Regions from separate parts of the Homo sapiens genome. Here regions 2, 3, 4, 5, 6 and 7 are each linked to region 1. The links come from fine-mapping of genetic effects on gene expression. A gene starts in region 1. Each other region holds a variant in brackets. All regions are shown on one strand. Distances are from middle to middle. Region 1 holds the start of LINC00910 (long intergenic non-protein coding RNA 910). Region 2 overlaps BRCA1 (BRCA1 DNA repair associated). Region 3 has its middle 11 kb from the start of ARL4D. Region 4 overlaps NBR1 (NBR1 autophagy cargo receptor). Region 5 holds the start of LOC124904145 (U2 spliceosomal RNA). Region 6 holds the start of VAT1 (vesicle amine transport 1). Region 7 overlaps BRCA1 (BRCA1 DNA repair associated).

Region 1 (4,091 bases):
TTTTTAAAAATTATTTGTAGAGACGAGGTCTTGCTATATTGCCCAGGCTGGTCTCAAACTCTTGGGCTCAAGCAATCTGCCCACCTTGGCCTCCCAAAGTGCTGGAATTACAGGCATGAACCACCGTGCTTGGCCCTCATATACTTTTTTTTTTTTTTGAGACAGAGTCGCACTCTGTCACCCAGGCTGGAGGGCAGTGGCATGGTCTTGGCTCACTGCAACCTCCACCTCCGAGTTCAAGCGATTCTCCCGCCTCAGCCCCCTGAGTAGCTGGAACTACGAGTGCGTGCCATCACACCCAGCTAATTTTATTTTTAGTAGAGATGGGGTTTCACTACATTGGCCAGGCTGGTCTCTGACTCCTGACGTCGTAATCTGCCCTCCTCGGCCTTCCAAAGTGCTGGGATTACAGGCGTGAGCCACCGCGCCTGGCCTTGGCCCTTATATACTTTTATAGTTCCATTTTTTTCACTTTGAAATCTTTGGCCCACTTGGCATTTATCTTGGTGTATGGTGAGTGAACCGTGATTGTAACACTGCACTCCAGCCTGGACAACAGAGGGAAACCTTGTCTCAAAATATAGATAGATATGGCCAGGCGCGGTGGATCATGCCTGTAATCCCAGCACTTTGGGAGGCCGAGGCACGCGGATCACGAGGTTAGGAGATGGAGACCATCCTGGCTAACACGGTGAAACCCCGTCTCTACTAAAAATACAAAAAATCAGTCCGGTGTGGTGGCACGCACCTGTAGTCCCAGCTACTTGGGAGGCTGACGCAGGAGAGTCGCTTAAACACGGGAGGCGGAGGTTGCAGTGAGCTGAGATAGCGCCACTGCACTCCAGCCCGGGCGACAGTGCGAGACTCCGTCTCAGAAAAAAGAACAGATAGATAGATAGATAGATAGATAGATAGACAGACAGACAGACAGGCCAGGCGCAGTGGCTCACGCCTATAATCTCAGCACTTTGGGAGGCCGAGGTGGGTGGCTGCCATATTGCACTTCACAGGGTAATAGAATGGAGATGACAATGACTCGGTGGAGACTGGGGTAAAGTGAAATGAGGGAAACACTTGCTGAGAGGTTAAAAAAAAAAATAAGGGGGCACCAAAAGACTCAGCAATCCAGATAAATGGCTTGATTATCTTATAATCGAGATAAGATATATTGCATTGAACTATTATTTATTTTGATTACTGAAGGGTTCTGGAGGATCACCCCCTGAAATTCGAACCTAGAGGAATGACCTCACCCTAATCCTGGCCGTGGCTAATAATAACGCCCATCTCTTAGGGCTGTCGAGTGAACTAAAAGAGATAATGCACGTAGAGCCCTCGGACCCGAGGCTGGCATTGGGAAAGGCACAGTTTATATTTTTTGACCTGGTTGTTCACCAGGCAATCCCTGCCATCCGGCTTTCCATCCTGCAGGGGGAGCATGACTGACTGAGTGTCACTATCGGATCTATGATACCTTCTTGCTTTTCTGAAATCAAATAAAAGAGCCATAAACTCTCATCTCAACTGTTGTGTTAGGAAGGAGGACGGGAATGGTAAATGCTGACGCTACAGGCGGCAGTCTGTGCCTCAGAGAGAAAATTTATCCCAACCTTGCTGGGGGCCTTGACGCCCATCTTCCTCCAGAGCACCCCGACAGTCACCCCGCCCTCTGGTGTCCTCCCACCCCGAGCCCGATCTTCCCCCTTCACGCCTGCCCCGGGCCAATAGCCTCCTAACTGCGTCCTCTCTGATTGCGTGTGTCGTGCTCATTACGCCCTATCCGTCGTTTCTTCGCTCCACAAACGTTTACTGAGCGCCTTCAACTTGCCAGGCACTAATTAGACTAGCGCAGAGAAACGGGGATAAGTACTGATGAGGGTCCCAGCCCTCAGCGATCGGATTTCAGAGGGGGAGATAAAGGACTGCCCAGAAGGGTGGTGAGTGGAGTAGTTGATATAAACAACGAGGTGCGATGAAATACACAGGAGGGCTGCTAATCACATATGGGGTGGGTGCCGAGGGCCCTTAATTAAGGGAGGCTTCCTGGACGGGTGACACCCAAGCGGAGTCCTGACGACCCGCGTCAGAAGTAGTCAGGCGAGGAGGAGGGTAAAGGAATCCACGTCCCAAGCAGAGAAGCAGCTTTCCCTACACAGCACAGGACACGGTCCGCGCACAGAAGCCGCAGGAGACGCAGGCACAGGGGCTGGGGAGAATCCTTGCTGGGCCCTCGCCGTCCATGCGCCGCCTCCCTCTGCCCGGTGTCTGGTGTCAGCCTCCTGCCTGGCAGAGGAACTCCAGCCCCTGCTCCCCGAAGCTCCTCCAGGCCTTCTGCTTCCCTGACTCGGAATGGGCCCGCTGTCCAGTGGGTACAAGGCTGGTCTCCCCGCCCACTGGTGACGACGTAAAGATCCAGCTCAGCCTGGTTTCCCCTGGTGATGATATCTTGCGACTCGTCTTTCTCCAGGAAAACAGGGACCGCTCTCCGCCTACAGGTCTCTTCCACAGACCTATCTTGTTTTCACCCCCTGTCTCTTTTGGTTCAGTCTTTTCGCTCATACAAACAAGGAAGTCGCCCCTAGCCCAGCCGCGGCTCCTTAGCTGGAGGCGGGCCCGGGGGTGGAGTCAACCGCGGTGGCCACGCCTCCTGGGAAAGGGCAGGGCATGCAAATTCGAAATGAAAGCCCGGAAACCCCGGAACTAGAACTGGTGTAAGATTTCTCTTGGTTTTTGTGTTGTTGTTGTTGTTTTGTTGTTGTTTTGAGACAGAGTCTCGCTCTGTCGCCCAAGCTGGAGTGCAGTGGCGCGATCTCGGTTCACTGCAACCTCCGCCTCCCGGGTTCAAGTGATTCTACTGCCCAGCCTCCCTAGTAGCTGGGATTACAGGCGCGCGACACCACGCCTGACTAATTTTTGTTTTTTTGTTTTTGTTTTTTTTTTAGATGGAGTCTCACTCTGTCGCCCAGGCTGGAGTGTAGTAGCGCAATCTTGGCTCACTGCAACCTCGGACTCCCAGGTTCAAGAGATTCTCCTGCATCAGCCTCCCAAGTAGCTGGGACTACAGGCACGTGCCACCACGCCCGGCTAATTTTTGTATTTTTAATAGAGACGGGGTTTCTCCGTGTTATCCAGAATGGTCTCGATCTCCTGACCTCGTGATCCACCTGCCTCGGCCTCCTAAAGTGCTGGGATTACAGGCGTGAGTCACCGCGCCCGGCACGCCCGGCTAATTTTTTTGTATTTTTAGTAGAGATGGGGTTTCACCGTGTTCCCCAGGCTGGTCTCGAGCTCCTGAGTCGAGACGGGATTTCTCCGTGTTTGCCAGAATGGTCTTGATCTCCTGACCTTGTGATCCACCCGCCTCGGCCTCCCAAAGTGTTAGGATTACTGGCGTGAGCCACTGCGCCCGGCAGATTTTTCTTTTAAAACGTGGAGAATAAGAAATCAGCCCGAGTGTGTAATGGCGTCAATATTGGTGTGGACAAGACAAAGTGAATGAGGCAAGGAGCGAGGCTGGGGCTCTCACCGCGTCTTGAATGTAGATGAGAGTGGGACGGTGATGGCAGGGAGGAAGGCGACGACATCTCTTCTCGTCCTTTTGGCTAAGATCAAGTGTAGTATCTGTTCTTATCAGTTTAATATCTGATACGTCCTCTATCAGAGAACAATTATATTAGATAGATTTTTGGAGCAGGGAGATGAAATAGGAGCTTGCTCTGTCCACTCCACGCGTCGACCTGGTATTGCAGTACCTCCAGGAATGGGGCTCCCTCTCCTGGGATACAACCTGTTTGCAAGGTTAGAAAGAAAAGACTGCGCCGGGTAGTTTAGGATAGTTGGTAGGTTTTCTTACTCCTTTAAGTATCATAAGGTTCATGATTTATGGAGAGTATCCTAGGACCCAAAACAAGAATATTCATTTCCAAGTAGGGAACATGTTCGACTTTACTTGGAGGGCTTTAAATCTCAGCTTGGCTGTGGAGGGGTGATGACCTTTCAAAGGGATGGATTCCAGTGGTGTGTTGCCCAGGCTGGACTTCAACTTACTCTGTTTGTTTGTTTGTTTTTTGTTTTTGAGATGGAGTTTAGCT
Region 2 (4,000 bases), 290 kb after region 1:
TGGGCGGCAAAGCAAGATCTAGTTGCAAAAAAAAAAAGAACTGGCTGGGTGCGGCGGCTAACACCTGCAATCCCAGCACCTTGGGAGGCTGAGGCCAGTGGATCATGAGGTCAGGAGATTGAGACCACCCTGGCCAACATGGTGAAACCCGGTCTCTACTAAAAATACAAAAATTAGCTGGGTGTGGTGGCACGTGCCTGTAATCCCAGCTACTCCAGAGGCTGAGGATGGAGAATCACTTGAACCTGAGAGTCGGAGGTTGCAGTGAGCCGAGATTGCGCCACTGCACTCCAGCCTGGCGACAGAGCGAGACTCCGTCTCAAAAAAAAAAAAAAAAAAGCTTCACGCCTGTAATCCCAGCACTTTGGGAGGCCGAGTCAAGTGGATCACGAGGTGTGGAGATCAAGACTATCCTGGCTCACATGGTGAAAGCCCGTCTCTACTAAAAACACAGAAAAATTAGCTGAGCGTGATGGCGGACTCCTGTAGTCCCAGCTACTCGGGAGGCTGAGGCAGGAGAATAGCATGAACCCGGGAGGTGGAGCTTGCAGTGAGCCGAGATCCCGCCACTGCGATCCAGCCTGGGCGACAGAGTGAGACTCTGTCTCAAAAAAAAAACAAAAAAACTTAGCTGGGCGTGGTGGTATGCACCTGTGGTCCTAGCTACTTGGGAGGCTGAGGCTGGAGCATTGCTTTAACATAGAGAGTCAAGGCTGCAGTTGAGCTATGACTGTGCCACTGGACTCCAGCGCAGGTGACTGAGACCCTATCTTTTAAAAAAAGGGAAAATTACTTGAACTTAAAAGGTGTAATTGTTAAAGAAAATGTAGTGATTTGCTCTGTTGTTACTTATATGTGCATGAATGATGGAGATCTTAAAAAGTAATCATTCTGGGGCTGGGCGTAGTAGCTTGCACCTGTAATCCCAGCACTTCGGGAGGCTGAGGCAGGCAGATAATTTGAGGTCAGGAGTTTGAGACCAGCCTGGCCAACATGGTGAAACCCATCTCTACTAAAAATACAAAAATTAGCTGGGTGTGGTGGCACGTACCTGTAATCCCAGCTACTCGGGAGGCGGAGGCACAAGAATTGCTTGAACCTAGGACGCGGAGGTTGCAGCGAGCCAAGATCGCGCCACTGCACTCCAGCCTGGGCCGTAGAGTGAGACTCTGTCTCAAAAAAGAAAAAAAAGTAATTGTTCTAGCTGGGCGCAGTGGCTCTTGCCTGTAATCCCAGCACTTTGGGAGGCCAAGGCGGGTGGATCTCGAGTCCTAGAGTTCAAGACCAGCCTAGGCAATGTGGTGAAACCCCATCGCTACAAAAAATACAAAAATTAGCCAGGCATGGTGGCGTGCGCATGTAGTCCCAGCTCCTTGGGAGGCTGAGGTGGGAGGATCACTTGAACCCAGGAGACAGAGGTTGCAGTGAACCGAGATCACGCCACCACGCTCCAGCCTGGGCAACAGAACAAGACTCTGTCTAAAAAAATACAAATAAAATAAAAGTAGTTCTCACAGTACCAGCATTCATTTTTCAAAAGATATAGAGCTAAAAAGGAAGGAAAAAAAAAGTAATGTTGGGCTTTTAAATACTCGTTCCTATACTAAATGTTCTTAGGAGTGCTGGGGTTTTATTGTCATCATTTATCCTTTTTAAAAATGTTATTGGCCAGGCACGGTGGCTCATGGCTGTAATCCCAGCACTTTGGGAGGCCGAGGCAGGCAGATCACCTGAGGTCAGGAGTGTGAGACCAGCCTGGCCAACATGGCGAAACCTGTCTCTACTAAAAATACAAAAATTAACTAGGCGTGGTGGTGTACGCCTGTAGTCCCAGCTACTCGGGAGGCTGAGGCAGGAGAATCAACTGAACCAGGGAGGTGGAGGTTGCAGTGTGCCGAGATCACGCCACTGCACTCTAGCCTGGCAACAGAGCAAGATTCTGTCTCAAAAAAAAAAAACATATATACACATATATCCCAAAGTGCTGGGATTACATATATATATATATATATATATATTATATATATATATATATATATGTTATATATATGTTATATATATATAACATATATATATGTTATATATATGTTATATATATATAATATATATATGTTATATATATGTTATATATATATATACACACACACACA[CAT/T]ATATATGTATATATATATACACACACACACACAAATTAGCCAGGCATAGTTGCACACGCTTGTAGACCCAGCTACTCAGGAGGCTGAGGCAGGAGAATCTCTTGAACTTAGGAGGCGGAGGTTGCAGTGAGCTGAGATTGCGCCACTGCACTCCAGCCTGGGTGACAGAGCAGGACTCTGTACACCCCCCAAAACAAAAAAAAAAGTTATCAGATGTGATTGGAATGTATATCAAGTATCAGCTTCAAAATATGCTATATTAATACTTCAAAAATTACACAAATAATACATAATCAGGTTTGAAAAATTTAAGACAACAGAAAAAAAAATTCAAATCACACATATCCCACACATTTTATTATTACTACTACTATTATTTTGTAGAGACTGGGTCTCACTCTGTTGCTTATGCTGGTCTTGAACTCCTGGCCTCAAGCAGTCCTGCTCCAGCCTCCCAAAGTGCTGGGATTATAGGCATGAGCTACCGCTCCCAGCCCCAGACATTTTAGTGTGTAAATTCCTGGGCATTTTTTCCAGGCATCATACATGTTAGCTGACTGATGATGGTCAATTTATTTTGTCCATGGTGTCAAGTTTCTCTTCAGGAGGAAAAGCACAGAACTGGCCAACAATTGCTTGACTGTTCTTTACCATACTGTTTAGCAGGAAACCAGTCTCAGTGTCCAACTCTCTAACCTTGGAACTGTGAGAACTCTGAGGACAAAGCAGCGGATACAACCTCAAAAGACGTCTGTCTACATTGAATTGGGTAAGGGTCTCAGGTTTTTTAAGTATTTAATAATAATTGCTGGATTCCTTATCTTATAGTTTTGCCAAAAATCTTGGTCATAATTTGTATTTGTGGTAGGCAGCTTTGGGAAGTGAATTTTATGAGCCCTATGGTGAGTTATAAAAAATGTAAAAGACGCAGTTCCCACCTTGAAGAATCTTACTTTAAAAAGGGAGCAAAAGAGGCCAGGCATGGTGGCTCACACCTGTAATCCCAGCACTTTGGGAGGCCAAAGTGGGTGGATCACCTGAGGTCGGGAGTTCGAGACCAGCCTAGCCAACATGGAGAAACTCTGTCTGTACCAAAAAATAAAAAATTAGCCAGGTGTGGTGGCACATAACTGTAATCCCAGCTACTCGGGAGGCTGAGGCAGGAGAATCACTTGAACCCGGGAGGTGGAGGTTGCGGTGAACCGAGATCGCACCATTGCACTCCAGCCTGGGCAAAAATAGCGAAACTCCATCTAAAAAAAAAAAAGAGAGCAAAAGAAAGAATATCTGGTTTTAAATATGTGTAAATATGTTTTGGAAAGATGGAGAGTAGCAATAAGAAAAAACATGATGGATTGCTACAGTATTTAGTTCCAAGATAAATTGTACTAGATGAGGAAGCCTTTTAAGAAGAGCTGAATTGCCAGGCGCAGTGGCTCACGCCTGTAATCCCAGCACTTTGGGAGGCCGAGGTGGGCGGATCACCTGAGGTCGGGAGTTCAAGACCAGCCTGACCAACATGGAGAAACCCCATCTCTACTAAAAAAAAAAAAAAAAAAATTAGCCGGGGTGGTGGCTTATGCCTGTAATCCCAGCTACTCAGGAGGCTGAGGCAGGAGAATCGCTTGAACCCAGGAAGCAGAGGTTGCAGTGAGCCAAGATCGCACCATTGCACTCCAGCCTAGGCAACAAGAGTGAAACTCCATCTCAAAAAAAAAAAAAAAGAGCTGAATCTTGGCTGGGCAGGATGGCTCGTGCCTGTAATCCTAACGCTTTGGAAGACCGAGGCAGAAGGATTGGTTGAGTCCACGAGTTTAAGACCAGCCTGGCCAACATAGGGGAACCCT
Region 3 (4,091 bases), 21 kb before region 1:
TGCGAGGGTGTGTGTGCGTGTTTGTGTGTGTGTTCGCATGCATGTGCATGTGCATTTGTGAGACACACCACAGGACATCTACATGCTAGGGACAGAAAGATGGGGAGGGCATGACGCTGGATTTTCTCTGTTTGATCTCGAGTGTAAAAGAGCAGCCAAATGCCCTCAAATAATGTTCTTTTTCTCCCTCTCTTGCTTTTCTCCCCAGGACTCTGGCACTTCTACAAATAGAGCTGTGCCAGAAGAAAAGGAAGTTTCAGCACTCAGTCCATCCACACCCCCCACCCCCTGAAACAATAATCTCTTCCTCTCTCCCAGCCCCTGTTTGAATTGGGGAGGGGGAGGGAAAGGAGGCGTCTTTTCTGTTCTGAAGTTTCTAAGGAAGCCAGTACAGACGCACCCTTCCCCTTCCAGGGAATGTATCCTGTGATGTTTAAGTAGGAGTCAAGCCTTGAGAATGAATTTCTCTTGAACTGTCCTTTCTCCACCACAGGAGATGGGATGGGTACACCCAATAAAGGAGAAAGAGCAAGAGAAGGGGTTAGGGTCAGATGTCCCCAAGGATATCAAAGTTTTCTGCCTAAGGGAACAGTGGGGCTCAGATGACCCATAGGCAAGGAAAGAGGTCAAGGAATGACTCAGTAGCCACAGCCTCCTGGAGCCTCTTGAAGAAACTCAAGGTTTCAACCTGATAAACATTCTCAAGACAGACAAGGCAGGATCAGAAGTAGGAATCCTGGGCAACATAGTGAGACCCTGTCTCTACAAAAAGTAATTAGTTGGGCATGGTGGTGTGCACCTGTGGTCCCAGCTGCTAGAGAGTCTGAGGTGGGAGGATCGCTTGAGCCCAAGAGTTCCAGGCTGCAGTGAGCCGTGACCATGCCACTGCACTCCAGCCTGGGCAACAGAGTGAGACGCTGTCAAAAAAAAAAAAAAAAAAAGAAAGAAAGAAAGAAGGAAAGAAAGAGGAAGAAAAAGAAACAGAAAGAGAAAGAAGGTGGGACAAGGGCAGATAAGGGTTGAGGCCAGGCTGAGAGTGAGAGTAGAAAGAGGACTGGGTTGCCAAGTGTGGATAACAATCAGGGCTGTGCTTGCTCGGGTCAGCTCACTCTTCTCTTCTCAGGCTACTCCCTGAGTGGATGCCTTGGTGCTCCACCCAGATTCCCGGTGCTGACTGTGAGTTTTGGCTGCCAATGGCTCTCCATCTCTGGACTTGCCCTTGGCCTAGAGGGCAGCCAATTAGCTGACTGACAGGGACATAAAAAACTAGCCTCCCTGACTCAGGTGGGATCCTTTCTGTCATACAGTTGTCCACCCAGAGCTTCCCACAGGATCAAGCCAAAACCAGACTCAGCTGTGAAGCACATCCTTGCTTCCCCACTCTGTGCCCCACCCTCTTTCCTTTCCTCCCTTCTCCTGAGAGTTTGCCTCACAATAAACCATGTGCCGCCCAAATCCCCATCTCAGTCTGCACATCAAGGGAACCAGATCTAAGACACTTCTTTGGGTACAAATTGCACCTTAGCTCCAGTGCCTAGGATGCTGTGTCAGCCCCTAGTCAGCCTTCAGTGCACAATAAAGATTTTTAAAAATTTTTTCGGCCGGGCGTGGTAGCTCACATGTGTAATCCCAGCACTTTGGGAGGCCGAGGTGGGCGGATAATATGAGGTCAGTAGCTCAAGACCAGCCTGGCCAACATGGTGAAACCCCGTCTCTACTAAAAATACAAAAATTAGCCAGGCCTGGTGGCGTGAGCCTGTCATCCCAGCTGCTCAGGAGGCTGAGGCAGGACAATCACTTGAACTCAGGAGGCAGAGGTTGTAGTGAGCCTGGATCGCGCCACTACACTCCAGCCTAGGCGACAGAGCAAGACTCCGTCTTGAAAAAAAAAAAAAAA[AT/T]TCTAGTCTCTCACTATGAAACTACAGTAAATAATGCTAAATACTATTCATATTATATGTGGTTAATTGAAAGAAGGAGTGATTGGTTGAATTAATGCTCTGGATGGGAGATAAGTAGGTGGGGGAATTTATTGTAGGACCACCCCCCCATATACACACACACGTTAACCAGATGCCCATGGCTCATCCCAGTACATCCTGTCTACATATAGGCCACCTGCTTACATCTATGCAAAGTCAGGGACAGATAATCCAGTTTGTGGATTATCCAGACCCCCAGCTGGCATGTTCCTTCTCAATATTGCCTCCCTGAACCCTCCCTCTGCTCCAGCACTTTCCCGGGGGTAGAGGGTGGGCAGAGACAGGCAGCAGGGGAGGGCAGGATGATGAAACCTCAGTCTGTCAACACTGTTGCTGCTGCCTCAGCAGTCTGATGAAAGATTAGAAACTATTGGGTAAAATCATGTTAGGAATTTTCTATGGATTCCAGGTATCTGGGCTCATCACCAAGTAGACAATTAAGAGTTGTTTGTGTGGTGAAAACACCTTGAACAAGGCCAGGAAAGTCACCTGCTAAGTAACCAAGTTTGGATCACTGAGAATCATAGTATGATAAGATACCATCTTAAAATGATTTAAGATATGCAAAGTCCTCTCCTATTCTGAAAGCTTTCCAAGAAAAGAAGTATGTGGATCTTTCAGGTTTTTCAGTCCTTCCTATCAAGAAGGCCTTCCTATAATTTACCTTCCTTCCATACTGTTACAGTTCTGGTCTGTTTCTCTTTTTTTTTTTTTCTCTGAGACAGGGTCTCACTCTGTCACTGAAGCTGGAGTGCAGTTGCAGTGGTTTGAACACAACGACTGCAGCCTCTGCCTCCTAGGCTCAAGCAATCCTCCCTCCTTAGCCTTCTGAGTAGCTGGGACCACAGGAGCCACCATGCACAGCTAATTTTTCTTTTTGTAAAGACAGGATCTTCTTTAGTTGCCCAAGCTGGTCCTGAACTCTGAGTTCAAGCAATCCTCCCGTCTCAGCCTCCCAAAGTGCTGGGATTACAGACATGAACCACTGCGCCTGGCCCTGTTTCTCTTCTGATTTCAGACAAAAAGGAGAACAAGTGTTTCATTCTTTTACTCATAATGCTCCTTCCCCCCAAATATGTGGATGCACTATCTGTAGAAACAGAATGTGAAGCCGGGCACAGTGGCTCACGCCTGTAGTCCCAGCACTTTGGGAGGCCAAGGTGGGTGGACTCCGAGGCCAGGAGTTCAAGACCAGCCTGGCCAACATAATGAAACCCCATCTCTACTAAAAATTAGCTGGGCATGGTGGCAGGCACCTGTGATCCCAGCTGCTTGGGAGGCTGAGGCAAGAGAATCGCCTGAGCCTCGGAGGCAGAGGTTGCTGTGAGCCGACATCACGCCACTGCACTCCAGCCTGGGCGACAGAGCAAGACTCCATCTCAAAAGAAAAGAAAAGAAAAGAAAAGAAAAGAAAAGAAAAGAAAAGAAAAGAAAAGAAACAGAATGTGAAGAATGTGAGCCACATATGTAATTTTAATATTTCTGATAGCCACATTTTAATGTTAAAAAGAAACAACTGAATCTAATTTTAATCATTTTATTTAACTCATTATGTAAAAAGTATCACTTCAACATATGCATAATCAATATAAAAAGTATTAATAAGAAATTTTACATTCTTTTTTCACATGAAGGCTCTGAATCTGTTGTGTATTTTACACGTACAGCATATCTCAGTTCAGACCAGCCACACTCCCCATGTTCAATCACCATGTGTGGCTCATGGCTGCCATATTGGACACCACAGGTCTAGAGCTTGGGAGTCTCTTCTTTGACACCTGCCCTACAACCTACTCTTCTGGAGTAGGAGGTAGAGAATGTGAATCTAGATACAGCCTATCCTCAGGTGACAGTGGGAGGAGTTGAAGGACAGGAGTGGTGGACAGAGTCTGAGAGTGTCTCAGGCCAGGTAATTACAGGGAAAGGAGGAACAAAACTGTATCTATTAAACCTCAGACTCAGGCCTTTCCTCCTGAGGAGTAGGTGGAGCCAAAAAGGTGCTCCGAAGCCTACAATGCTCCAGGTCCCTCATTAATCAGAATACTTAATTCTGGCTCCAAGCTGACTTCTTTTCCTTACCTCCTCCAGGAAGCCTTCCCAGATAAATTCTCC
Region 4 (4,091 bases), 190 kb after region 1:
CTCTCAGCCAGGCATAGTGGCTCACACCTGTAATTCCAGCATTTTGGGAGACCCAGGCAGTTGGATCGCTTAAGGCCAGGAGTTCAAGACCAGCCTGGACAACGTGGCAAAACCCCGCTTCTACAATAAATACAAAAATTAGCTAGGTGTGGTGGCCCATGCCTATAGTCCCAGCTACTCAGGGGGCTGAGGTGGGAAGATTGCTTGAGCCTCAGAGGCAGAGGTGGCAGTGAGCCAAGATTGTGCCACTGCACTCCAGCCTGGGCAACAGACTGAGACCCTGTCTCAAAAAAAAAAAAAAAAAAACACAACCAGCTCTCAATAATCAAAATATAAGCAGACAGACTATACTCAGATAATTTAAGGCCAACTAAAACAAATATTTCTTTAAATCCAGAATCCACAAATACTGGGAAATACAACTTTTATTCATCTAAATTCAGACTTTGCTATGGAAAATAGTCTCTTTCCATACTGAGGAAAAAACAGGTTTTGAGATCAGGTCGATTCCTCTCTTTATTTCACCTCTGAAGAACACCCCAGCTGAGGGGGCTGTGAGTGGTACCTGGGCAGTGACGGTGGAAGCTCCACTACCTCTGGGATTAGGGGCACTGTTTCCAGAGTCTGTGAGGTCGTGAGGATGTCACTTATGCTGTGCTCCTGTGGCTGGTTCTCCCCTCCAGGGAGTCTTTCCCCAGCCTCAGCTGGTTCCTGCCCAGCCTCAACCCCAGGCTTGCCTTCAGCACCTCGCTCCAGGCCTGGCTGTGAGAGCGCAGAGCTGTACATAGAATCCCCCAGGGGGCGGCTGGTATCAAAGCACTCAGGCAGGATGATGATGTAATCCTCTGAGGAAGCAGAGGACTGACTTTGAACTTCATCTTTGAGCTCATCCTCCTCCTCCTCATCCTCCTCATCCTCCTCCTCCTCCATGACAGCTTCTTCCTCAGCGATATGGATAATCTCCTCCTTCTCATTTCCAAGTGGTCCTTCAGGCAAGGCAAATGTCACTAAAGGATGAAAGCAACCAATTTTAAGGTGGAAGCTAAAAGCAGGCCTAAGTACTATCCTTACTTGGTAAAGCCTTGTGGATCATAAGCTAGAATTATGAAAGCCAGAGGAGAGGGAAGAACTAAAGGGAAGGGCTGGTTCTGGAACTATGACCATATTCTAAGTTTGAAGACTATGCAAAACAAAATAGAATCAAAGCTCACAGAAACAAGGTAGGCAGAAACACTCAGGTTTCCAAGAAGCTCTATGAATCATAAAAGGAGGCAGCTCCATCCCTTTTTTCCTTTTTATGTGATGGTTAATATACTGAGTAGAGTTTAAACCAAAACTGATACACTAACAGTGCTATAAAAAGAGAAAAAGTTAGGAGATGAGTATTGCAGGATTATATGTCTATCTCCTCCTCTTCTTTACAAAGATGATGCAGTCATGGGAGAAAACTGGCCAATCATGTTTGAGAGGGTAAAAAAGGATAGAAAAAAGCTACCCAGGGCCAGGCACGGTGGCTCACGCTTGTAATCCCAGCACTTTGGGAGGCCAACGTGGGCAGATCATGAGGTCAGGATATCAAGGCCATCCTGGCTAACACGGTGAA[A/G]CCCCATCTCTACTAAAAATACAAAAAAATTACCCGGGCATGGTGGCGGGCGCCTGTAGTGCCAGCTACTCGGGAGGCTGAGGCAGGAGAATGGTGTGAACCTGGGAAGGCGGAGGTTGCAGTCAGCCGAGACCGCGCTGCTGCACTCCAGCCTGGGTGACAGAGACTGTGTCCCAAAAAAAAAAAAAGCTACCCAGGCCAGGTGTGGTGGCTTACGCCTAAAATCCCAGCACGTTGGGAGGCCAAGGCAGGCAGACTGCTTGAGCTCAGAAGTTTGGGACCAGCCTGGGCAACGTGGCGAAATCCCATCTCTACAAAAAAAAAAAAATTTAGCTCATTGTGGTAGCATGTGGCTGTGGTCCCAGTTGCTTGGGAAACAGAGGTAGGGGGACCCCAGGATGTTGTGGCTGCAATGAGCCATAAACTTGCTACTCGCACTTTAGCCTGGGCGAGTGAGACCTTATCTCAAAAAAAAAAAAAAAATTACCCATAAATCCTATCAGAATAACAGCTGTGAACATTTTGGTACTGTCTTTCCAGACCTTTTTGTTATGTATTTGTACACACATGTGGAAAAAAATATAAAGATATACATGACTGATTGATTTGAGATGGAGTCTCACTCTGTTGCCCAGGCTGAAGTGCAGTAGCATGATCTCAGCTCACTGCAAGCTGCACCTCCCAGGTTCACGCCATTCTCCTGCCTCAGCCTCCCGAGTAGCTGGGATTACAGGTGCGCCCGCCACCACACCCAGCTTATTTTTTGTATTTTTAGTAGAGATGGGGTTTCACCGTGTTAGCCAGGATAGTCTTCATCTCCTGACCTCATGATCCGCCCACCTCGGCCTCCCAACGTGCTGGGATTACAGGTATGAGCCACCGCACCTGGCCACATGTACACTTTATTATTTTTTTTTTTTAGACGGAGTCTCGCTCTGTCACCCAGGCTGGAGTGCAGTGGTGCGATCTCAGCTCACTGCAACCTTGGCTTCCCGGGTTCAAGCAGTTCTCCTGCCTCAGCGTCTTGAGTAGCTGGATCACAGGCACACGCTACCACGCCCAGCTAATTTTTGTATTTTTAGTAGAAATGGGGTTTCTCCATGTTGGTCAGGCTGGTCTCAAACTCCTGAGCTTGTGATCTGTCCGCCTCGGCCTCACAAAGTGCTGGGATTACAGGCGTGAGCCACTGCGCCTGGCCTTACATGTATACTTTAAACAAAAGTAAGATAAATAATATTTAAAGATATAGGTCAAATTTGATTATAATAAAGAGATTCTCCAATATTATTTTGACATAGTATATTTGAATTTTTGGATACTTCTTAAAATATATGCTATTGGTTCTATCTATCTGATACCTAGAAGTTTCTGTTATAAAGGTATTTATTCCTTTTTTTTTTTTTGAGACGGAGTTTCACTCTTGTTGCCAGGCTGGAGTGCAATGGCGCCATCTCGGCTAACCACAGCCTTCGCCTCCCGGGTTAAAGTGATTCTCCTGCCTCAGCCTCCCAAGTACCTGGGATTACAGGCATGTAATCCTTGGCATGTAGCCACCACACCTGGCTAATTTTTAGTATTTTTAGTAGAGATGGGGTTTCTCCATGTCGGTCAGGCTGGTCTCGAACTCCCAACCTCAGGTGATCCACCCGCCTCAGCCTCATAAAGTGCTAGGATTACAAGGGTGAGCCACTGTGCCCGGCCTATAAAGGTATTTATTACAGCAGAATTTAACCTTGAGAAACTTTGTTGGTACTCCTGCTTCTATCCACTGTTTCTGGGACTGCTGCCCTTGGAGAAAGCAGACAACTCAGCTACCCATAGGGGTCTCTGCTAAGGAGCTCTGTCAAATTACAGGAAGATTCCTTACTGCAGAATCCAGGCAGCACAACTGGCTGCTATTCCACTGTGGAATGCAGCTGTAATTCTGCCCCTGAGAAGATGGAGAAATGAGTATGATGGCTTCTTTACTCCTGATGCTCTAATTAGAACAGTCAGGTAGCATACGTAGAGTCTAAAGACACAAACAAGATCAGAATTTCTTTTTTTTTTTTTGAGATGGAGTCTCGCTTTGTCGCCCAGGCTAGAGTGCAGTGGCGCAATCTTGGCTCACTGCAAGCTCCGCCTCCCGGGTTCATGCCATTCTCCTGCCTCAGCCTCCCGAGTAGCTGGGACTACAGGCACCCGCCACGTCGCCAGGCTAATTTTTTGTATTTTTAGTAGAGATGGGATTTCACCATGTTAGCCAGGATGGACTTGATCTCCTGACCTTGTGATCCGCCTGCCTTGGCCTCCCAAAGTGCTGGGATTACAGGCTTGAGCCACCACGCCCCGCCAAGATCAGAACTTCTAACTAAGATCACTCTCCCTTCAGTCTCAGTGAAGAAGAGCACATCTAACTAGTCAAGTCTGGCAGTCACAATTCAGGTGCCACCCTGCTAGGTAGGGGAAATGCAAGGACACTCACTCTGCAAGGACTTCTGTCTGCAAG
Region 5 (4,091 bases), 100 kb after region 1:
AGTGGGACGGTGACGGCGGGCGCGAAGGCGAGCGCATCGCTTCTCGGCCTTTTGGCTAAGATCAAGTGTAGTATCTGTTCTTATCAGTTTAATATCTGATACGTCCTCTATCCGAGGACAATATATTAAATGGATTTTTGGAGCAGGGAGATGGAATAGGAGCTTGCTCCGTCCACTCCACGCATCGACCTGGTATTGCAGTACTTCCAGGAACGGTGCACCCCCTCCGGGGATACAACGTGTTTCCTAAAAGTAGAGGGAGGTAAGAGACGGTAGCACCTGCGGGGCGGCTTGCACGCCGAGTGCCTGTGACGCGCCGGCTTGACTTAACTGCTTCCCTGAAGTACCTTGAGGTTCCTGATGTGCGGGCGGTAGACGGTAGGCTTATGCGGCACGCTTTCGTTTCCACCGTGGCTACTGCGCTTTGGGAAGGCCACGACCTCCTCCTTTGGGGAGGTCCTTAGGATCTCAGCTTGGCAGTCGAGTGGGTGGCGACCTTTTAAAGGAATGGGACCCACCCGGAGTTCTTCTTTCTCCTGTCTCTCTCTCTCTCTCTCTCTTTCTCTCTCTCTCTCTCTCTGTCTCTCCGTCTCTCTGTGTCTGTCTCTGTCTCTCTGTCTCTCTCTCTGTCTCTCTCTCTCTCTCTCCTCTCTCTGTCTCTCTCTCTCTTTCCCTCTCTCTCTCTCTTCCCCCCCCCCGCCTCTCCCTCGCTCTTTTGGTTTCCCCCACCCCCTCCCAAGTTCTGGGGTACATGTGCAGGACGTGCAGGTTTGGAACATAGGTACACGTGTGCCACGGTGCTTTGCTGCACCTATCCACCAGTCGTCTAGGTTTGAAGCCCCGCATGCGTTGGCTATTTGTCCTAATGCTCTCTCTCCCCTTGCCCCCCACGCCCCGTCAGGGCCCGGCGTGTGATGTTCCCCTCCCTGTGTCCCATGTGTTCTCGCTGTTCAACTCCCACTTAGGAGCGAGAACATGCGGTGTTTGGTTTTCGCTTCCTGTGTCAGTTTGCTGAGAATGAGGCCTTCCAGCTTCATCCACGTTCCCGCAGAGGTCATGAACTCATCCTTTTTTATGGCTGCGTAGTAATTCCATGCTGTATACGTGCCACACTTTCTTTATCCAGCCTATCATTCATGGGCATTCGAGTTGGTTCCAAGTCTTTGCTATTGTAAATAGTGCTGCAGTAAACATACGTGTCCACGTGTCTTCCTAGTAGGAACTTCTTCCTCTTCAGCCCGCTGAGTAGCTGGCACTTTAAGGCAGGTGCCAACGCACCGGCAGCAAGCTTCCTTTTTTGCCCGGGAAAAACTGAGGTGCAGGTAGTATAAGCCATTGATCACGGAACGCACAGGAGCAGAGCTCGAGTCCAAGCATCGTGGCTCCACCCGTCATGCTGGATGCATCTTTAGGCTCCGCTCTAGGTATGTGTATCCTTTACGGGATCAGCCACCGGCAGTTGCCTTGCGAGCACGATGACAAACCTCTGCCGGCTCTTTTGGGTCTCATCCCTGTATCTATACGTTGCATCCCAACATAAAGACCGGAATGTTCCTTTCGCTGACCCAGTCTCTCACCCTTTCCAAACTCCAGAAATCTTGTCTGTCCTCGGAAGAACTCCCCCTGCTTCTTTCTCTAAAGGCTGTCTTCAGGCCGGGCACAGTGGGAGGATCGCTTGAGCCCAGAAGGCCGCAGTGAGGTGAGATCGCGCCATTGCACTGCAGCCCCCGGCGGCAGAGCCGGAGCCCCGTCTCGAAACAAACAAACAAAAACCAACCAACCAACCAACCAACCAACAAACAAACACAGACAAAGAAAGAAAGAGCCCAGGCAACCTAGTGAAAACCTGTTCGGGCTGGGGCGTACCTGTACCCCAGCTGTTCCGGAGGCTGAGGCCAGGAGGATGGGTGGACGCTGGGAGGTGGATGCTGCAGTGAGCAGTGATTGCACCACTGCACTCCAGCCTGGGTGACAGAGCCAGACCCCGTCCCAAATAAATAAACATAAAAATAAAGGAACCAGTTTGTAGAAAGCGGGAGAGGGTCCCATTGAACTTCAAGCCTTCGAGCAACAGCTGTGGCTGGACAGGTTGGACCAGCAGGCTGGAGCAGTCGCCATCTTGGCAGGGATCATTGACCCTGATCTATCGTCGGGAGGAGGAAGAGCT[G/T]ATCTTACGCAGGGAGGGCAGGTGGACTATGTGTGGACTCTGGTGACCTGTTTGGGTGCCAGGTGTTACTCCCAGGGCCACCCGTAACTGTGAATGTGCAGGAACCCTGACTTGAGAAGGGCCTGGCCACGGGGGGCTTAGGCCCCTGGGGAATGAGAGTTTGGTTCCCGGTACCCAGGGAAACCACCAGCATCGGCAGAGGTGATAGCTGAGGAGGAGCGGGGATTTGGACGAGAGACACAGGATGAGTACCGGGGGGCAGCCCCGTGATCAACAACTGCTGCAAGAGGGGCCGTTTGTTCGACTCGCTAGTCTTCTGCGGCTCTATGCGGTACTAAAGAGCAGAAGACAGAAGATACAAAAACCACAAAAAGTAGCCGGGGCGTGGTGCTGCCCGTCAATAATCCCAGCTACTCGGGAGGCTGAGACAGGAGAATCGCTTGAACCCGGGAGGGCGGAAGTTTCAGCGAGCCGAGATCACGCCGTTGCAGTCCAACCTGAGCGTCCGAGCGAGACTCTATCTCAGAAAATAAAGACAGAATGAAAGAGCCCGGCGCGGTGGCTTACGCCTGTAATCCCAGCGCTTTGGGAGGCCGAGGCGGGCGGATCGCCTGAGGTCAGGAGCTCGAGACCAGCCTGGCCGACATGGCGAAACCCCCTAAAAATACAAAAATTAGCCGGGCGTGGTGGCCTGCGCCTGTAATCCCAGCTACCCAGGAGGCTGAGGCAGGAGAATCGCTGGAACCCGGGAGGTAGAGGCTGCAGTGAGCCGAGATCGCGCCACTGCACTCCAGCCTGGGCGACAGAGCGAGAGTTTGTCTGGAAAAAAAAAAAAAAAAGCCAGGGTGAGCGGTGGCTCAAGCCTGTAATCGCAAGCAACACTTTGGGAGGCGGCAGCTGGGCAGATCACCGGAGGTCGGGAGTTGGAGACCAGCCTGAGCAACGTGGAGAAACCCCATCTGTACTAAAAATACAAAGTTAGCCGGGCGTGGTGGCACATGCCTGTAGTCCCAGCTGCTCGGGAGGCTGAGGCAGGGGAATCGCTTGAACCCGGGAGGCGGAGGTTGCAGAGAGCCTAGATCGCGCCATTGGACTCCAGGCTGGGTAACAAGAGCGGAACCTCCGTCTGAAAAAAAAAAAAAAAAAAAAAAAAAATTGGGAGAATTTTGCTCCCACTGCCGTCAAAATCCCATGTGTATTTCACACTTAACAGCGCAGCTCCATTAGAACTGACCACATTTCCAGGGCTCCCTAGATACCTGTGGCTAGCGGCTGCCATACTACACCGTGCTGGGCTGTAGAATGGGGATGACAAGACAGGGCGGCGGAGATTGTGTTGGCGTGAAGCGAGGGAAACACTCGGCCGCAGGACAAAACTAAAACAGCAAGGGGGCACCGAAAGACTCAGTAGTCCACGTGAATATCCTGATTATGTTGTAGCTGAGATAATGTAGGGTCCACCCCTACCGGGTCTGTGGGTTTTCTCTTCGCGTGTGTGCGGAGACGAGAGATCGAAGAGATAAAGACAGAAGACAAAGAGATAGGAAGAAAGACAGCTGGGCCCGGGGGACCACTGCCACCAAAGCGCGGAGACAGACAGGTAGTGGCCCCGAGTGCCTGGAGGCGCTGCTATTTATTGTAGTCAAGGCAAGGGGGCAGGGTAAGGAGTGCCAGTCATCTCCAATGATCGATAGGTCACGCGAGTCACGTGTCCACTGGACAGGGGGCCTTTCCCTTTGTGGTAGCCGAGGTGGAGAGGGAGGACAGCAAACGTCAGCGTTTCTTCTATGCACTTATCAGAAAGATCGAAGACTGTGGTACTCCTACTAGTTCTGCTACTGCTGTCTTCTAAGAACTTAAAAGGAGGAGCCAGGTGTACAGGCTGAACATGAAAGTGAACAAGGAGCGTGACCACTGAAGCACA
Region 6 (4,091 bases), 370 kb after region 1:
ACGCCTGGCTAATTTTTTGTATTTTTTAGTAGAGACGGGGTTTCACCGTGTTAGCCAGGTGAATCTCCTGACCTCGTAATCTGCCCGCCTCGGCCTCCCAAAGTGCTGGGATTACAGGCGTGAGACACCGCGCCCGGCCTTTTTTTTTTTCGAGATGGAGTCTCCCTCTGTAGCCCAGGCTGGAGTGCAGCGGCATGATCTTGGCTAACTGCAACCTCCGCCTCCTGGGTTCAAGCAATTCTCCAGCCTCCGCCTCCCTAGTAGCTGGGACTATAGGCACCTGCCACCATGCCTGGCTAATTTTTGTAGTTTTAGTAGAGCTGGGGTTTCACCATACTGGTCAGGCTGGTCTCGAATTCCTGACCTCAGGTGATCCACCCACCCGCCTCGGCCTCCCAAAGTGTTGGGATTACAGGCGTGAGCCACGCCGCCCGGCCCTTTTTTTTTTTTTTTTTAACAGGGTCTCACTCTGTTGCCCAGACTGGAGTGTAGTGGCGCGATCTCGGCTCACCTCCGCCTCCCAGGCTCAAGCGATTCCTCTGCCTCAGCCTCCCAAGTAGCTGAGATTACAGGCGCGCGCCACTACCGCCCGGCTAACTTTTTTATTTTTAGTAAAGACGGGGGTTTCACCATGTTGGCCAGGCTGGTCTTGAACTCCTGACCTCAAATGATCCACCAGCCTCGGCCTCCCAAAGTGCTGGGATTACAGGCGTGAGCCACCGCGCCAGGCCTATCCCTTAAAATAGTTTTTAATTTGAATAAGGTTTACTATGAATAAATAAATCACAGTCGGCTTGATCCCAAGAGCACAGACGTTCCTGGTGCCCCTTTTCGTGCTCTCCCAGCTTGCGCCACTATGGCCCTGGCCCTTTAAGGCTGAGCGCGAGGCCCCGCCTCGCCCGGCGCCCCGCCCCTCCCGCTGGATCCCGCAGCCGCGGCTCTTCCCGACGCGTTCCGCCTTCCCCAGCTGTGCACTCTCCATCCAGCTGTGCGCTCTCGTCGGGAGTCCCAGCCATGTCCGACGAGAGAGAGGTAGCCGAGGCAGCGACCGGGGAAGACGCCTCTTCGCCGCCTCCGAAAACCGAGGCAGCGAGCGACCCCCAGCATCCCGCGGCCTCCGAAGGGGCCGCCGCCGCCGCCGCCTCGCCGCCACTGCTGCGCTGCCTAGTGCTCACCGGCTTTGGAGGCTACGACAAGGTGAAGCTGCAGAGCCGGCCGGCAGCGCCCCCGGCCCCTGGGCCCGGCCAGCTGACGCTGCGTCTGCGGGCCTGCGGGCTCAACTTCGCAGACCTCATGGCTAGGCAGGGGCTGTACGACCGTCTCCCGCCTCTGCCTGTCACTCCGGGCATGGAGGGCGCGGGTGTTGTGATCGCAGTGGGCGAGGGAGTCAGCGACCGCAAGGTGAGCGGGTTGCGTAGGGCAGGGCAGGGCTGCGCAGGCCACTGGGCAGTGGGGCACGAGTGGGCGAGCGCCGGGGGTGTGGCAGGGCGGGAGAAACTGGCGCGGACCTGGGTGCACGAGCGTGGAAAGCGTAGCCAAGGAACTTGTGTTTGGGGGCTCCTGGAGAGCGGCATTTATGTGGGGAGGGGAGACGAAATTATCGCCCCTTCCCCAACCATTTTTAGTTGTGGCCGCCGCCCAGAAGCTGTGCTGGTGGGGGGGAAAACAATAAGGTGCCCATGCGCATGCGCACAACCACACTACCGTCCCCACCCCCCCCCCCCCCCCCCATTAAAACCACACCTGTACCCCTACCCACCAAACACTCTCTGGGTAATTGTGGTCTGTGACTATGAGTGACGGTTAGTGCCCCCTTTCCCCGAGGGAGCTTGAGGGGCTATGTCGTCGGGGTTGGGCGGGGGCACAGCGGCCGTGCCAGAGTCCTGGTCACATGCAGCCCCGTGGTCTGTGGGGGTGTGAGGCGGCCCCTCCCAAAGCAAGGCCAAAGAGACGAGACACGCCCATCACGGAGGAGAGAGAGCCTTTGCTACCCCACCGCCACCAGCCTTACACCGCCGATCTGATTTTGGGGTGGGGGAGGCGGGATTGGGTCATCCGATCTTTGTCTTGGGCTCTGTGTCTCCCGTGACTGCAGTATCTCCTCCTCCTGTGACTCAGCCCTCAGCCTTCGGGCCACGACCCGGGGCTGCCCTTGGGAATGCCTGGGGCGGGGAGTGGAAGGGGGGACCCACCTCTGCCTTCCTCCTGCAGAGGACCCCCACTTCAGAAACCCCAGTGCCAGGGGTTTGGACTGGAACGGAGAGGTG[C/T]GGCGCCTTGAACTGGTTGGCCAAGTCTGCAGGCCTGTTTCTCCTTCTCATTTATCATTAATCTTGGCCACAACCCTGGACACCAGAGAGCTCAAAATGATCAGCTTTTTGAGAGACCTGGGATGAGGCCTCAGCACGCCATTTGTTTAGAGGTTTCTTTTTTTTTTCTTTTTCTTTTTTTTTTTTTTTTTTTTTAGACGGAGTTTCGCTCTTGTTGCCCAGGCTGGAGTGCAATGGCGCGATCTCGGCTCACCGCAACCTCTGCCTCCCGGGTTCAAGCGATTCTCCTGCCTCAGCCTCTCGAGTAGCTGGGATTACAGGCATGCGCCACCATGCCTGGCTAATTTTGTATTTTAGTAGAGATGGGTTTCTCCATGTCGGTCAGTCTGGTCTCGAACTCCCGACCTCAGGTGATCTGCCCACCTCGGCCTCCCTAAGTGCTGGGGTTACAGACATAAGCCACTGCGCTTGGCCAGGAGTTTCCTTTTTAAATCAGACCCCTCAATGAGAGGCCCCACAGATGCAGCCTCTTGCAGACCTGCCAGCCCAATTCTGGAGCCAGGTTTGTTGGATTCATCCTGTATGCAAACAGCTTCTCCTTAAGGCTTTCCTCTGAATTCAGCTCTGGCCCCACCCTCAAACTGACTTCTAAATGATCCCACTCTTGAGCAGGCGTCTAAGAGGAATATTTTCGGGAGGTAGTTGTAGTTCATGTTACTGCTGAAGGCCACCCACCTCACCTCCCCTCCATACACTTTCCGCCTGGTAAATACAGGATATCCTGTCCAGGGCAAGAATCTGATGTAAGAGCCTGGATTCTGCGGGGAGGGCCCTTCCCTCTCTCTCCCTCCTCCTCCTTCCTGGTGTCTGGGTTGGGGAGGGGTCATGGCCCTGATTTGGATGGCCTGAGGGTTAGCATGAGCCAGGGTAAGTGAGACTTGTTCTGGGTCAAATCTGGGACTGGCCATGACCCTAAATGACCAATGCACTCCTCGCAGCTCTCCTGGGTTGTTCTGTATCTGCTAGTCCTGAGTCCCTGGGTGGAGGGCTTCCGTTCTTGTTCTCCAGACCTCATCTCAGGCCAGAACTTGGAAGGAAAGACCCCAGCATGCCCTCAGTTCTCGTATTCAGTGGAGTGTGGGGGCTTGAGGACATGAAAAAGGGCGTAAGTGGCAGTCCCATCCCCCTTCCCCATGGACCCTAACTCTTGTTAATATACAGAATTCCCATCATTCCTGGCAGGGATCAAGACAGACCCAGATTGTCCCAGAACAGCACCCACACCTCCCTCTTCATGCTCTTCAGAGAGCGCAGAGAAGTCTTTTCTCCTGACGCTCCCTCCTTTTCCCTGCCCTTCCCTTGACCCCACTTGCTAAGCTGGAGAGAAAGGTTCTGTTATCTTTGTCCCCTTTCCCTCCTGCACAGAGGCTCTCGTGGGGGTGGGGGGGAAGCCTTTTACTGCTGCGTAGGCCTCTGTAGCCCTTCTTGTCTGTTGCCCCTCCTGCACCATCTCTGAGTGAAGATGTTTTCTGGGCTCCCAGTGCTGGCTCAAACACACTTCTCCCGAGGTGACCACACCCTGCTGTAAGCGCTCAGAGAACTTTGCCTGCACTTTGGTATGGCCCTGACCACACAGTGCCGTCTTCTTTTGGTTGTGTGACTTCCTTGCTGCTATTATATTATTATTATTATTATTGTTAGCTAACATTATTAAGTGCTTATTATGTGCCAGACATTGTGCTAAAATTTTTTTTTTCCATTTGGAAAAACTGCCCTAATTGACAGATAAGAAAACTGGAGCTGGAAAAGTGGAGCTCAAAAAGA
Region 7 (4,000 bases), 340 kb after region 1:
ACTTCATCTCAAAAAAAAAAAAAAAATCCCAGCTGGGCACAGCGGCTCACTTCTGTAATCCCAGCACTTTAGGAGGCCAAGGCAGGAGGATCACTTGAGCCCAGGAGTTCAAGACTAGCCTGGGCAACATAGTAAGACCCTGTCTCTACAAAAAAATTTAAAAATTAATTGGGTGTCGTAGCACACTCTTGTATTCCCAGCTACTCAGGAGGCTGAGGTGAGAAGAATGCTTGAGTCTGGGAGGTCGAGGCTGCAGTGAGCCATGATGGTGCTACTGCACTCCAGCCTGGCCAACATTGTGAGACCTTGTCTCAAAACAAAACAAAACATCCTTCTACTGAGCACTTTCTGTCCCTTTATAGAAACTTAAGAGGGAACCAGTAGAGGTAATTTCCTAAGGAAAACTGCTTTGGGACATGATCACAAATGAAGCCTGGAGTTTTGAACTGCTGAGGTCAGCCTGTTTTTACCTTCTGAGCCTATCAAGTAATTGTTCCAGATGCCAAGAAAAGCTGCTGGCCTTATTTCTGCTTCTGCCTTTACCACAGGGGAGCGCCATGTGAGCCAGTCCTCTGTTTTTCCTCCACTGTATGCTAGGCAGTATTAGCACCAGATTCTTCCCCTCTTTAAAAAGAAATTCTAGTGCTTTGGATTTTTTCCTCCATGCAGAATAGCAATGATGGAAAGTATGTGGTCAAAGTAATGACATTCTGAAAATACTAAATGTCACCATAGTATTTTTCTCTGGAAGAGAAATGTATATGTAGAGGTGAAACTTCAAATTTCTTTTTTTTTTTTTTTAAGACGAAGCTTTGCTCTTCTTGCCCAGGCTGAAGTACAATGGCGTGATCTTGGCTCACCGCAATCTCTGCCTCCAGGGTTCAAGTGATTCTCCTGCCTCAGCCTCCTAAGTAGCTAGGATTACAGGCATGTGCCACCACGCCCAGCTGATTTTGTATTTTTAGTAGAGATGGGGTTTCTCCATGTTGGTCACGCTGGTCTTGAACTCCCGACCCCAAGTGATCCACCCACCTCGGCCTCCCAAAGTGCTAGGATTACAGGCCACCGCGCCCGGCCTGAAACTTCAAATTTCTTTTTTTTTTTGAGACAGAGTCTCGCTATGTCACCCAGGCTGGAGTGCAGTGGCGCCGTCTCGGCTCACTACCAGCTCCACTCCACCTCCTGGGTTCACACCATTCTCCTGCCTCAGCCTCCCAAGTAGCTGGGACTACAGGTGCCCGCCACCATGCCCAGCTAATTTTTTGTATTTTTAGTAGAGACGGGTTTTCACTGTGTTAGACGGGATGGTCTCCATCTCTTGACCTCGTGATCCGCCTGCCTCAGCCTCCCAAAGTGCTGGGATTACAGGCGTGAGCCACTACGCCAAGCCCGAAACTTCAAATTTCTTATCTCATAACTAGGCATCCTCATCACTGAGTGTTAGCCTGGATATAAACATTCCTAATCTTTTGTACTTTTCATGTCAGCATTTGGCTCCACTTGGCTGCCTGGGGAGAACTTCTAGCATTATGAGCATGCAGGTCCTATCAACAGGTTGGGGGTGCGGTTTATTCATACAGGTAGTGAGAGTGGCACAGATGGATGCTGTCCCTTAAAACAAACAGACTTGTCTTTGGGAGCCTGAGGCGGGTGGATCATGAGGTCAGGAGTTCAAGACCAGCCTGGCCAACATAGTGAAACCCCGTTTCTACTAAAAATACAAAAAATTAGCCGGGTGTGGTGGTGTGCACCTGTAATCCCAGCTACTAGGGAGGCTGAGGCAGGAGAATCACTTGAACCCAGGAGGTGGAGGTTGCAGTGAGCCGAGATGGCACCATTGCACTCCAGCCCAGGCGACAGTGCAAGACTGCGTCTCAAAAAAAAAAAAAAAACACACAGACTTGTCCTACTGCCATTTCTTTTCACTCTGGCGGTAAAGTAAGAGAGTGTGTGTGTGTGTGTGTGTGTGTGTGTGTGTGTGTGTGTGTGTTTCTGTCC[G/A]TCTGTCTGTCAAGGGGGAGGGTGACCACTTTCTAAAAGGCCATCCGTGTATTTTTAGCTTCCTGATTTTTTTCTCTATCGCAGTCTCTTTGAAGCCAGGTGAATTTTAGGCCTTGGCAATTTTCTTTTTATTGCAATGGGAAGGTCAAGACACTGAGAGTCACCCAAAACATATCCATCCAAAATGATACAATTTTAGGGTTTATTTTTAAGTGATACCCAAGTTATTTGCTAAGAACCTATGCCAGTGTGTTTATGAGAATTTGCACTGTCCCACACTGTTGCCACCAGCCACATGGGACTGTTTAAATTTAAATTTTACAAATTAGCCAGTCATGGTGGTGTGCACTTGTAGTCCCAGCTACTTAGGAGGCTGAGGCAAGAGGATTGCTTGAGCCCAGAAGTTCAATACTGCAGCAAGCTATGATCGTGCCACTGTACTCCAGCCTGAGTGACAGAATGAGACCTCATCTCTTCAAAAAAAAAGAAAAAAATTAAAATATGAAGTTTAGTTCTTCATTCACCCTAACCACATCTCCAGTGCTCAATAACTATATGTGACTCATGGCTACCTTATTAGCATAGATATAGAACATTGTGACTATCACAGAAAGTTGTTTTGAACAGTGTTGCCAAGCCCTGTAAGTGGAAGAGGCAGTGCAGTGTGATCTGTGTCTTCAGGAAACCAGGTAGTCAGACTAGTTCAATGAGGAGAGGCAGAACCTGGCTTCACTTCTAGATTAAAAACTGCTTAGGTGGCCTAAAGATACAATGGCCATTCTCAGAGTAGTGAGAAGGAAGGAACAGATGTTTAGGGGGCTAGAAGAAAGTCAGAGAGGGCCGGGCGCAGTGGCTTATGCCTGTAATCCCAGCACTTTGGAAGGCCAAGACAGGCAGATCACGAGGTCAGGAGTTCGAGACCAGCCTGACCAACATGGTGAAACCCTGTCTCTACTAAAAATACAAAAATTAGCCGGGCGTGGTGGTGCGCGCCTGTAATCCCAGCTACTCAGGAGGCTAAGGCAGGAGAATCGCTTGAACCCTGGAGGCAGAGGTTGCAGTGAGCCCAGATCGCACCACTACGCTCCAGCCTAGGTGACAGAGAGAGACTCCGTCTCAAAAAAAAAAAAAAAAGTCAGAGGAGACAAGGAGCATGTACACCTAAAATCAACATAGACCCCTCTGTTGATGGGGTCATAGTGAGTACTTGAGGTACCAAGTCTGGATAAACATCAAACTTCAGCCAATAACTTTGAGTTTCTAGCCATCCAAGCCTCTTATTAAACATACAGAAGGACCTTTTTTCCCTTGCATCTAACAAGTTAAAGCACCTGCAGAGATCATTAGGGAGGAGCCTTGGCCTGATTGGTGACAAAAGTGAGATGCTCAGTCCTTGAATGACAAAGAATGCCTGTAGAGTGCAGGTCAACTACATATGCACTTCAAGAAGATCTTCTGAAATCCAGTAGTGTTCTGGACATTGGACTGCTTGTCCCTGGGAAGTAGCAGCAGAAATCATCAGGTGGTGAACAGAAGAAAAAGAAAAGCTCTTCCTTTTTGAAAGTCTGTTTTTTGAATAAAAGCCAATATTCTTTTATAACTAGATTTTCCTTCTCTCCATTCCCCTGTCCCTCTCTCTTCCTCTCTTCTTCCAGATCTTCAGGGGGCTAGAAATCTGTTGCTATGGGCCCTTCACCAACATGCCCACAGGTAAGAGCCTGGGAGAACCCCAGAGTTCCAGCACCAGCCTTTGTCTTACATAGTGGAGTATTATAAGCAAGATCCCACGATGGGGGTTCCTCAGATTGCTGAAATGTTCTAGAGGCTATTCTATTTCTCTACCACTCTCCAAACAAAACAGCACCTAAATGTTATCCTATGGCAAAAAAAAACTATACCTTGTCCCCCTTCTCAAGAGCATGAAGGTGGTTAATAGTTAGGATTCAGTATGTTATGTGTTCAGATGGCGTTGAGCTGCTGTTAGTGCCAACATGTTAGTGAG

The links. PIP is the estimated chance that this variant, and not a neighbour inherited with it, causes the effect.
Region 2: its variant is fine-mapped to the expression of LINC00910 in whole blood (INTERVAL, PIP 0.94).
Region 3: its variant is fine-mapped to the expression of LINC00910 in CD4 T cells (BLUEPRINT, PIP 0.94).
Region 4: its variant is fine-mapped to the expression of LINC00910 in whole blood (INTERVAL, PIP above 0.99).
Region 5: its variant is fine-mapped to the expression of LINC00910 in naive CD8 T cells (Schmiedel 2018, PIP 0.95).
Region 6: its variant is fine-mapped to the expression of LINC00910 in lung (GTEx, PIP above 0.99).
Region 7: its variant is fine-mapped to the expression of LINC00910 in whole blood (TOPMed, PIP 0.96).

Annotation. Positions count from the first base shown.
Region 1 is chr17:43,386,909-43,390,999 of GRCh38, reverse strand. LINC00910 (long intergenic non-protein coding RNA 910) reads left to right here and starts at 2,102. Exons shown (of 6, transcript NR_027412.1): 1 at 2,102-2,711. It also overlaps the pseudogene RNU2-4P. RefSeq lists enhancers at 1,222-1,975, 2,293-2,522, 1,976-2,729, 3,020-3,535, 3,536-4,051 and a silencer at 2,085-2,379.
Region 2 is chr17:43,098,697-43,102,696 of GRCh38, reverse strand. BRCA1 (BRCA1 DNA repair associated) reads left to right here. Exons shown (of 23, transcript NM_007294.4): 7 at 2,817-2,922. Among named protein-coding and RNA genes, the nearest start is that of BRCA1, 25 kb to the left of the region's middle. The variant CAT/T (reference allele first, on the strand shown) is at 2,151.
Region 3 is chr17:43,408,031-43,412,121 of GRCh38, reverse strand. No RefSeq gene overlaps it. Among named protein-coding and RNA genes, the nearest start is that of ARL4D, 11 kb to the right of the region's middle. The variant AT/T (reference allele first, on the strand shown) is at 1,898.
Region 4 is chr17:43,197,083-43,201,173 of GRCh38, reverse strand. NBR1 (NBR1 autophagy cargo receptor) reads right to left here. Exons shown (of 21, transcript NM_005899.5): 16 at 4,068-4,091; 17 at 566-1,007. Among named protein-coding and RNA genes, the nearest start is that of TMEM106A, 13 kb to the left of the region's middle. The variant A/G (reference allele first, on the strand shown) is at 1,604.
Region 5 is chr17:43,286,426-43,290,516 of GRCh38, reverse strand. It overlaps LOC124904145 (U2 spliceosomal RNA), which reads left to right and starts at 36; the gene lies at 36-226. The variant G/T (reference allele first, on the strand shown) is at 2,168.
Region 6 is chr17:43,019,246-43,023,336 of GRCh38, reverse strand. VAT1 (vesicle amine transport 1) reads left to right here and starts at 952. Exons shown (of 6, transcript NM_006373.4): 1 at 952-1,401. The coding sequence starts at 1,015. The variant C/T (reference allele first, on the strand shown) is at 2,268.
Region 7 is chr17:43,050,771-43,054,770 of GRCh38, reverse strand. BRCA1 (BRCA1 DNA repair associated) reads left to right here. Exons shown (of 23, transcript NM_007294.4): 20 at 3,654-3,708. Among named protein-coding and RNA genes, the nearest start is that of RND2, 28 kb to the right of the region's middle. The variant G/A (reference allele first, on the strand shown) is at 1,999.